Linked DNA regions of Homo sapiens. Each later gene encodes a partner of the first gene's protein in a complex. Each region holds a gene or a part of one and is shown in the gene's direction. Other genes may lie near its edges. The genes, in order: RASIP1 and RAP1B.

What was found.
Region 2: the proteins of RASIP1 (region 1) and RAP1B are in contact, whole or in part, in a crystal structure (PDB 5KHO), measured with the Homo sapiens proteins. Residues at the interface, in NP_060275.2 of Homo sapiens: Val147 (codon at 3,217), Lys149 (codon at 3,223), Ala156 (codon at 3,244), Ser157 (codon at 3,247), Gly158 (codon at 3,250), Ala159 (codon at 3,253), Asn160 (codon at 3,256), Tyr161 (codon at 3,259), Lys162 (codon at 3,262), Ser163 (codon at 3,265), Val164 (codon at 3,268), Leu165 (codon at 3,271), Glu181 (codon at 3,319), Arg182 (codon at 3,322); in NP_001010942.1 of Homo sapiens: Val24 (codon at 1,752), Gln25 (codon at 1,755), Asp33 (codon at 1,779), Pro34 (codon at 1,782), Thr35 (codon at 1,785), Ile36 (codon at 1,788), Glu37 (codon at 1,791), Asp38 (codon at 1,794), Ser39 (codon at 1,797), Tyr40 (codon at 1,800), Arg41 (codon at 1,803), Glu54 (codon at 3,368), Leu56 (codon at 3,374), Phe64.

The regions. Positions count from the first base shown.
Region 1 is NC_000019.10:48,738,651-48,742,560, reverse strand, and holds the start of RASIP1 (ras-interacting protein 1), read left to right. Parts: upstream 1-1,950; 5' UTR 1,951-2,040; intron 2,041-2,274; 5' UTR 2,275-2,278; coding exon 2,279-2,415; intron 2,416-2,915; coding exon 2,916-3,601; intron 3,602-3,910. Other genes in the region: IZUMO1 (izumo sperm-egg fusion protein 1 isoform 1 precursor), read left to right, coding at 252-352, 619-772, 1,083-1,260, 1,533-1,653. UniProt on the Homo sapiens protein: Required for the proper formation of vascular structures that develop via both vasculogenesis and angiogenesis.
Region 2 is NC_000012.12:68,648,661-68,652,570, forward strand, and holds part of RAP1B (ras-related protein Rap-1b isoform 1 precursor), read left to right. Parts: intron 1-38; 5' UTR 39-64; coding exon 65-121; intron 122-1,739; coding exon 1,740-1,808; intron 1,809-3,334; coding exon 3,335-3,391; intron 3,392-3,910. UniProt on the Homo sapiens protein: GTP-binding protein that possesses intrinsic GTPase activity. Contributes to the polarizing activity of KRIT1 and CDH5 in the establishment and maintenance of correct endothelial cell polarity and vascular lumen.

The DNA.
Region 1 (3,910 bases):
GCCTGTCCAATATGGTGAAACCCCATCTCTACTAAAAATACAAAAATTAGCCAGGCGTGGTGGCAAGCGCCTGTAGTCCCAGATACTCAGGAGGCTGAGGCAAGAGAATCGCTTGAACCCAGGAAGCGGAGGTTGCAGTGAGCCGAGATCGCGCCAATGCATTCCAGCCTGGGCGACAGAGCGAGTCTCCATCTCAAAAACAAAAACAAAAACAGAATCATGAGTGTCCCATGGTCATCCCCCACCCCCAGAGCGGAATGTGGAAGTTCCTCAAATGGAAGACATGATCCTGGACTGTGAGTTAAACTGGCATCAGGCTTCGGAAGGCCTCACTGATTACAGCTTTTACAGGGTGAGGGCCTCAACTTCTGTAACCCTTGAACTCCCTAGACTACAATACTTGTGTTCTGGATCTATGGGCCTGCACCCACGATTCTCATGACCCAGGAGGGTGGTCTATTAGGTGTGGTCTCTACAGACCTCTGGGGACCCCGTGCCCTGACCAGTGACACCCTGGACACTCACCTCCCACACTGAGGCCCTGTGATCTTCTCACCCCTGTACTCCCCCAACCCCTGAATTCCTCAGGCCTCAGTGACCCCTTGAGCTTGGGTCTAGGTTTGGGGGAACAATACGGAGACCTTGGTGTCCAAGGGGAAAGAGGCCACCCTGACCAAGCCCATGGTGGGTCCAGAGGATGCAGGCAGCTACCGCTGCGAGCTGGGCTCTGTGAATTCCAGCCCAGCCACGATCATCAATTTTCACGTCACAGGTCAGTGCTGTGGGGCTGAGAGAAGTGTAGGATTCAGGGCCCAGGAAAGCTGGGGTCCGCGGCGGGGGCGTGGCCTTGGCGATGGGGGCGTGACTTCCTGTTGGGTGTGGTTTCGGGGCACGGGGTGTGGCTTCCTGCCGGGGGCGTGGCCTCTGGCCCCGAGGACAGGGGTTCCCTTGGGTGTGTTCAGGCTTGACACTGTTGAAGGCGTGATTATCTCTGGGATGGCCGGCTACTGGGACGGGCTTGTCTTTGCCAGGGCAGGAACTCCACGCCCTGCCAGGACTGCTCTTTACGCTTTCTCTAACAGTGTTGCCCAAAATGATCAAGGAGGAAAAACCTTCTCCAAATATCGTAACCCCGGGGGAGGCGACCACGGAGTCGTCCATAAGCCTCCAGCCTCTGCAGCCCGAGAAAATGCTGGCAAGCCGCCTTCTGGGGCTGCTGATCTGCGGCTCCCTAGCACTGATAACCGGCCTTACCTTTGCGTAAGCAACCCATTGAAGAAGACAGGCTTGGCTTGGAGTAAGGGGCGGGGCTTCCAGGAACCCAACACAGAAGCTGGTCTGGGGGCTACTGAGGCCTGAGAGCAGGACTTTCCTGGGGATGGAGTGCGGGGGGCTTGAATAGGAGGACTTCGAAGGGCGAGGCTTAGGTAATTGCTAGAATAAGGTCACAAAGGGGGAGGTTGGGAGGGGTGTCCCCCACACAATTAGTACCCAAACCGGTTCCATGATCTGCACCCCACTCCCACCCCTAGGATATTTCGTCGAAGGAAGGTGATCGATTTCATCAAATCCTCACTGTTTGGCCTTGGCAGTGGAGCGGCCGAGCAAACCCAGGTCCCAAAAGAAAAGGCCACAGATTCGAGGCAACAATAAAGATTTATCTTGTTGTCTAAGCATCTGACTCACTCCCCGGGACGGGACTGATTCTAGCCTTTGGTTCCCCGAGAGGAGAGGTCTGGGGATGGGCTCCGGCCTGAGGGAGGAAGGGCAGAAAACCGGGACCCTTGGGTCCTGGAGGGGACCAACTGACTGCGATGTAATTCCAGAATCAAGGAATGGGGCAGGGCCAACCCTACCCAGATCTCCTCCCCCAGGCCTGGTCTCCTCACAGGACGCCCCCTCCCCGCTCTTCCTGCCGGGTTTCCTCTTGCCTTTTCCTGTCCCCCACCCAGTGCTGGGAGCCGTGGCAGAGGCAAGAGCAGTGGAACTGACCCAGGCCAGTGGAGCCAGGGCCTCCGGGTGTGCCGGACCCGAAGCAGGGTAAGAGCCAGGGACCCAGCAGCCCAAACCCCTCCTCCCTGGGCCCCAAGACTCAGTCCCCCAGCCATCTTCCATCCCAGGACCCAGGAATCCAGGGTACCATCCCTCTCCTCCCCCTGGACTCGCAAGTCTGAGCCCCAGCCCCCTCCTCCCTCTGACTCGGAGTCCAGGTTCCCTCCACCCCATCCCCACAAGAATGCCTTAGGAGTTGGGGCCTTACCCGCCTTCCCTTAGGGCCATGCTGTCTGGTGAACGGAAGGAGGGCGGAAGCCCCCGCTTCGGGAAGCTTCATCTCCCCGTGGGCCTGTGGATCAATTCCCCCAGGAAGCAGCTGGCGAAGCTGGGGCGGCGCTGGCCCAGCGCAGCCTCTGTCAAGTGAGTGCCATCTCTGCAGGACTCCTGCCCCTGCACACCTGCTTCCCATCTGTCCCTGTTCACTGCCCAGTCCCTGCAAAGTGTTGGCTCCGGTCCTCATCCTGAATTGGGCAAACGAGCTGGTGGGCAGGGGGAGACGGTGGGGCACAGTGATACCAGGGCGCGGTGGGAGTAAGAGCTAGGCTAGGAGGTGGAGTGAGGCCGGATGGGCACGGGGACGGGGACAGAAGGAGCAGGGGGATTGATTCACCTTCCTTCCTCCCCTCCCTGCTCACCTCTTGGAATTTCCTACTGTGGGACTTGCCTTTATTTATTTATTTTTTCTCTCTCTCTTTGCCTCGCGTCTGTCCCCACCCTCACCCCCGCCCCGTCCATCCACCCTGGGTCCCTGTCCTCCCTCTGGGTCTCTGCCCACTTCCCTCCTAATATGCCCCCACCCCCGTCTTGGCGTGTCGTCCTGGGTCTCTCTCCCGCGACTCTGTTCCCCGGCGGACTCCCAGGTCTTCTTCGTCGGACACGGGGAGCCGCAGCAGCGAGCCGCTACCTCCGCCCCCGCCGCACGTGGAGCTGCGGCGAGTGGGCGCTGTCAAGGCGGCCGGGGGAGCCTCCGGTAGCCGCGCCAAGCGCATCTCCCAGCTCTTCCGGGGCTCGGGGACCGGGACCACGGGGTCCAGCGGCGCAGGAGGCCCTGGGACCCCGGGGGGCGCGCAGCGCTGGGCCAGCGAGAAGAAGCTGCCGGAGCTGGCGGCGGGCGTGGCCCCCGAGCCCCCGCTGGCTACCCGCGCCACGGCGCCTCCGGGGGTCCTCAAGATCTTCGGCGCCGGACTGGCATCGGGCGCCAACTACAAGAGCGTGCTGGCCACGGCGCGCTCCACGGCGCGCGAGCTCGTGGCCGAGGCGCTAGAGCGCTACGGCCTAGCAGGCAGCCCCGGCGGTGGCCCCGGCGAGAGCAGCTGCGTGGACGCCTTCGCTTTGTGCGACGCTCTGGGCCGGCCCGCGGCGGCGGGCGTGGGAAGCGGCGAGTGGCGGGCGGAGCACCTGCGCGTGCTGGGCGACTCCGAGCGCCCGCTGCTGGTGCAGGAGCTGTGGCGGGCGCGGCCCGGCTGGGCGCGGCGCTTCGAGTTGCGCGGCCGCGAGGAGGCGCGGCGCCTGGAGCAGGAGGCCTTCGGGGCCGCGGACAGCGAAGGTGAGCGGCGGGCGGGGCTCTGGGGCGGGGACTCGGTGCCAGAGAGGCGGGGTCCGTGGGGCGGGGCCTGGGCGGGGCTTGTGGGACTCGCGGGCTGGCTGGGGGCGGGGCCCGCGGGAGGGGACTGGGAGGGGACTGGACGGTGCGTGTTGGACTCTAGGCAGAGCTAGAGCAGGGCCGGGGGCGGCCAGATGGGCGGGCCTGAGAGTTGGGTGGGGCTTGTTGATTGAGCAGGAGTTTTACAGGGGCCAAGCTTGGGGCTTAGGCGGGACGGGGGCTGGTTGCTGGTGGTGGCTTGGAGTGGCCTGA
Region 2 (3,910 bases), on another chromosome or scaffold:
TTTACTTAGAATTCTTTTTTTTTTTTTCCTTTAATAAGGTACTAGGTTTTGACAAGCTTGCATCATGCGTGAGTATAAGCTAGTCGTTCTTGGCTCAGGAGGCGTTGGAAAGTCTGCTTTGGTAAGTCATTCTTACTTTACCTAAGCCTTTCACTCCAAGACGTTCTTTTTCTGTTGAGTTTTAGGTTTTGATGATTTGTCTTTGTTAAGATAAAATTCCTTAATGACTTTAGAAGCAATATAATATTTTTCTTGTAATTTTATTCAACTTTTAATTATATCTGGGTGGATCATATTCTCTCTGGAACATTGACTCCAGAATGACACGAGTTATGCTGGAATACAATTTGAGCTAAGCACAGAGATTGAGAGCGTACAAATACATGTCTTTTTGCATTCGCATTTCAGAGCCAGATAGGAATAAATTTTGGTCTTTTTATTTATTTATTTTTTTGAAACAGGGTCTCACTCTGTTGCCCAGGCTAGGGCTCAAGTGATCTCAGCCTCCTGAATGCTTGGGACTACAGGCACGTGCCACCATGCCAGGCTAATTTTTAAAATTTTTTGTAGAGATGGCGTCTTGCTATATTGCTTAGGCTGGTCTTAAACTCCTGGCCTCAAGTAATCCACCTTTGCCTCCCAAAGTGCTGGAATTACAGGCATAAATCACCATGCCTGGCTTGCTCTTTCTTCTTATGAATAGTCTTACCCTGTACATTTTATGTTAGAAAATATCAAAGCTTATAAAAAGTCTTCAAATATTACCTTTGACTGTCCAGCTTTACATTTTTTAACGGCACGTTTTCTGCATCAAGGAATGGTATAGCAAGAATGAAGACATAACTGGGTAATGAGGGTTGGGAAAGAGGAAAAACGTAGGGAAAATAATTTGATGAATAGTTCAGAGCTTAGCAAAGCCTCACAAGCAAATAGATTGACCTTCTGTCTCACTCATAAGATAAACCATCTTGGCCACTTAGAAAGGCCACCTAGCTGAGAAGTGTCATGCTTGGAACAAACTGAGAAGTACATACAATGTGAAATGAACTGCTTTTTCATTTGTATCCAAAGTGATGGGGAGGTCAGTTGATCCTGCATGTATGTGTGTATACATAACAATTAGTCAATTTCTAATTTAAAAATCAAATTTAAGCTCTTAAGACTGAAACAATGCCGGCACAGTGGCTCACGCCTGTAATCCCAGCACTTTGGGAGGCTGAGGTGGGCGGATCACCTGAGGTCAGGAGTTCGAGAGCAGCCTGGCCAATATAGTGAAACCCCGTCTCTACTAAAAATATAAAAATTAGCCAGGTGTGGTGGTGCATGCCTGTAATCCCAGCTACTCGGGAGGCTGATGTGGGAGAATGGCCTGAACCCGGGAGGCAGAGGTTGCAGTGAGCCAAAATTGCGTCACTGCACTTCAGCCTGGGAGACAGAGCAAGACTCTGTCTCAAAGAAAAAAAACAAAGGACTGAAACCAGAGACATTTAAAATTTTTTAATATATGATCTCTAAATTTAGAATTACCCAATAAGGAGCATAGTGATTATTTATTTAAAAATAAACAGCTTCCTGAGGTAATTTTCTTACCAAATGTACACATTCGAATGTAGTATTGGCTGTGGTTTTTTTTTTCATTGATGGTGTAACTCCCTGTGTGAACTCAGTTTACAATTACATTAAAGATTGAATGTACTCTTTTCTTTAGAAGTATAATGGTTTCTTAATTTTTTTTTCAGACTGTACAATTTGTTCAAGGAATTTTTGTAGAAAAATACGATCCTACGATAGAAGATTCTTATAGAAAGGTATATATTACTTTGGAAGGCCTTTTGCTTTTGATTTTAATATAAATACTTATTTTAGCTTTATAATTATTGAATGTTTTATACAAAGGATGGAGGCAGAGTTAATTTATAAAATTAGTGGGAAAAGTTTACACTTTCTGGCATTGCATAGTTACCAGTTTAAGAGGATCATAAACACCCATACTCTCACATATTCACAGAATTTTTTGTAATTTGACACATAAACTTTAAAGCAGACCATCCATTTCAAGTAGTAGCCCCATGTTACTTTCAGTCCCCTACCTAGCAAGACTGATTACTCTCAAGCTCCCTTCTTTTTAACCTAGAAATAGGTGGACACAGGTCTTCCTAAGCTTTCTACTTACTAACCTCTTGAGAAAGTGCCACCACTCACAATACTGGTTGAATATCCCTTATCTGAAATAACTGGGACCAGAAGTATTTCAGATTTCAGATTATTTTCTGATTTTAGAATATTTGTATATACATAATGAAATAGAATGGGACCCACATCTAAACAATTCATGGTTTCATATACACCTCATACACATAATCTTACATAATATTTTTAATATTCTTATGCATGATACAAAGTTTTGGCTGCATTTTGACTGTGACTGGTCACATGAGCTCATGTGTGGAATTTTCCACTTGTAGCGTGATGTTCCACACATGGCTCAAAAACTTTTGGATTTGGAACATTGCAAGTTTTGGATTTTTAGATTAGGGATGCTCAGCCTATAGAAAGGTGAATTCCTGTGTCCACTAACAGCATGTGACAATAAAACAATGTGTAGACATTTTTAACTTAGTAGGGAAAGAGGTATTTCCCAACCTCTATGAAGCAGCCAACCTGGCCCCGCTGTTGCACAAATACTGTGTTTCCATTCCTCCCTCCATGTGCATAGTCTACCAAAAAAAAAACTGGAAACTTTTGCACCCCAGCTGTGAGACAGTATTACTCTTTTCTTTCTACATCTAATTCTAAATACCTATTTTTCCCTAGGAAATATTAGATGGAAAGGGGTAACAGGGATATATGTGTAATTTATTTAATAGCTGTGCCACTGCTTCCTTAATTCCAGAAATCTTGTTCCAGTATGGTGAGGGCATATAGTTACCTAGAGAAATGAGGTATATCTAAAGTATCATGGGAGAATTTAGACAGAATTACTTATGATACTGTTGGAACTGTTGCTGGTTTTGTTTGTTTATTTGAGCTATTTCGAAACTATTTTTTTCTCTAGAATTAAGTGCTGAGAATCCATATTGAGACTGGTTCGTGTAGGTTTCCCTGTGTTGACTTGAGAACACATGGCTTTTGAACTTGATTACAATTTGGGGGTCTTTGAATCTTGATTACTTAGCTATTTTTCCTCCTGCTTTGTTGAAGTATTGCTGGATATTAGTTTGTAAAGTTGTTAAAATCTGTGTGTCTTATTTTTGATACATTAGCTTTTTTGTGTATATTAAGGTAGTTTTATGTACATTGAAAAAATGAACATGTATTTTAATTTTTCTACCAGCAAGTTGAAGTAGATGCACAACAGTGTATGCTTGAAATCTTGGATACTGCAGGAACGGTAGGTAAAACTAAATACCAAAGTATATACACCGTTTGTACAGTATTGACTTCATAAATGCTAGTACTCTATAGACAAATATTAGTTAAGCTTATTTAAAAGTACTGCTTGCAGCCGGTTGTAGTGGCTCACACCTCTATTCCCAGCACTTCGGGAGGTCAAGGTTGCTGGATCACTTGAGGTCAGGAGTTCGAGACCAGCCTGGCCAACATAGTGAAACCCCATCTCTACTAAAAATACAAAAATTAGCCAGGTGTGGTGGTGGGAGCCTGTAATCCCAGCTACTCAGGAGGCTGAGGCAGGAGAATCTCTTGAACCCAGGAGGCAGAGGTTGCAGTGAGCCAAGACTGTGGAGATTGTGCCACTGCATTCCAGCCTGGGTGACAGAGCGAGACTCTGTGTCAAAAAAAAACATAAGACTACTAGTTGCTAAACTTTAAATCTTTTTGTTGTTGTTCCGTTGAATCCTTAATTTTATATTGGCCGGGCGCAGTGGCTCACGCCTGTAATCCCAGCACT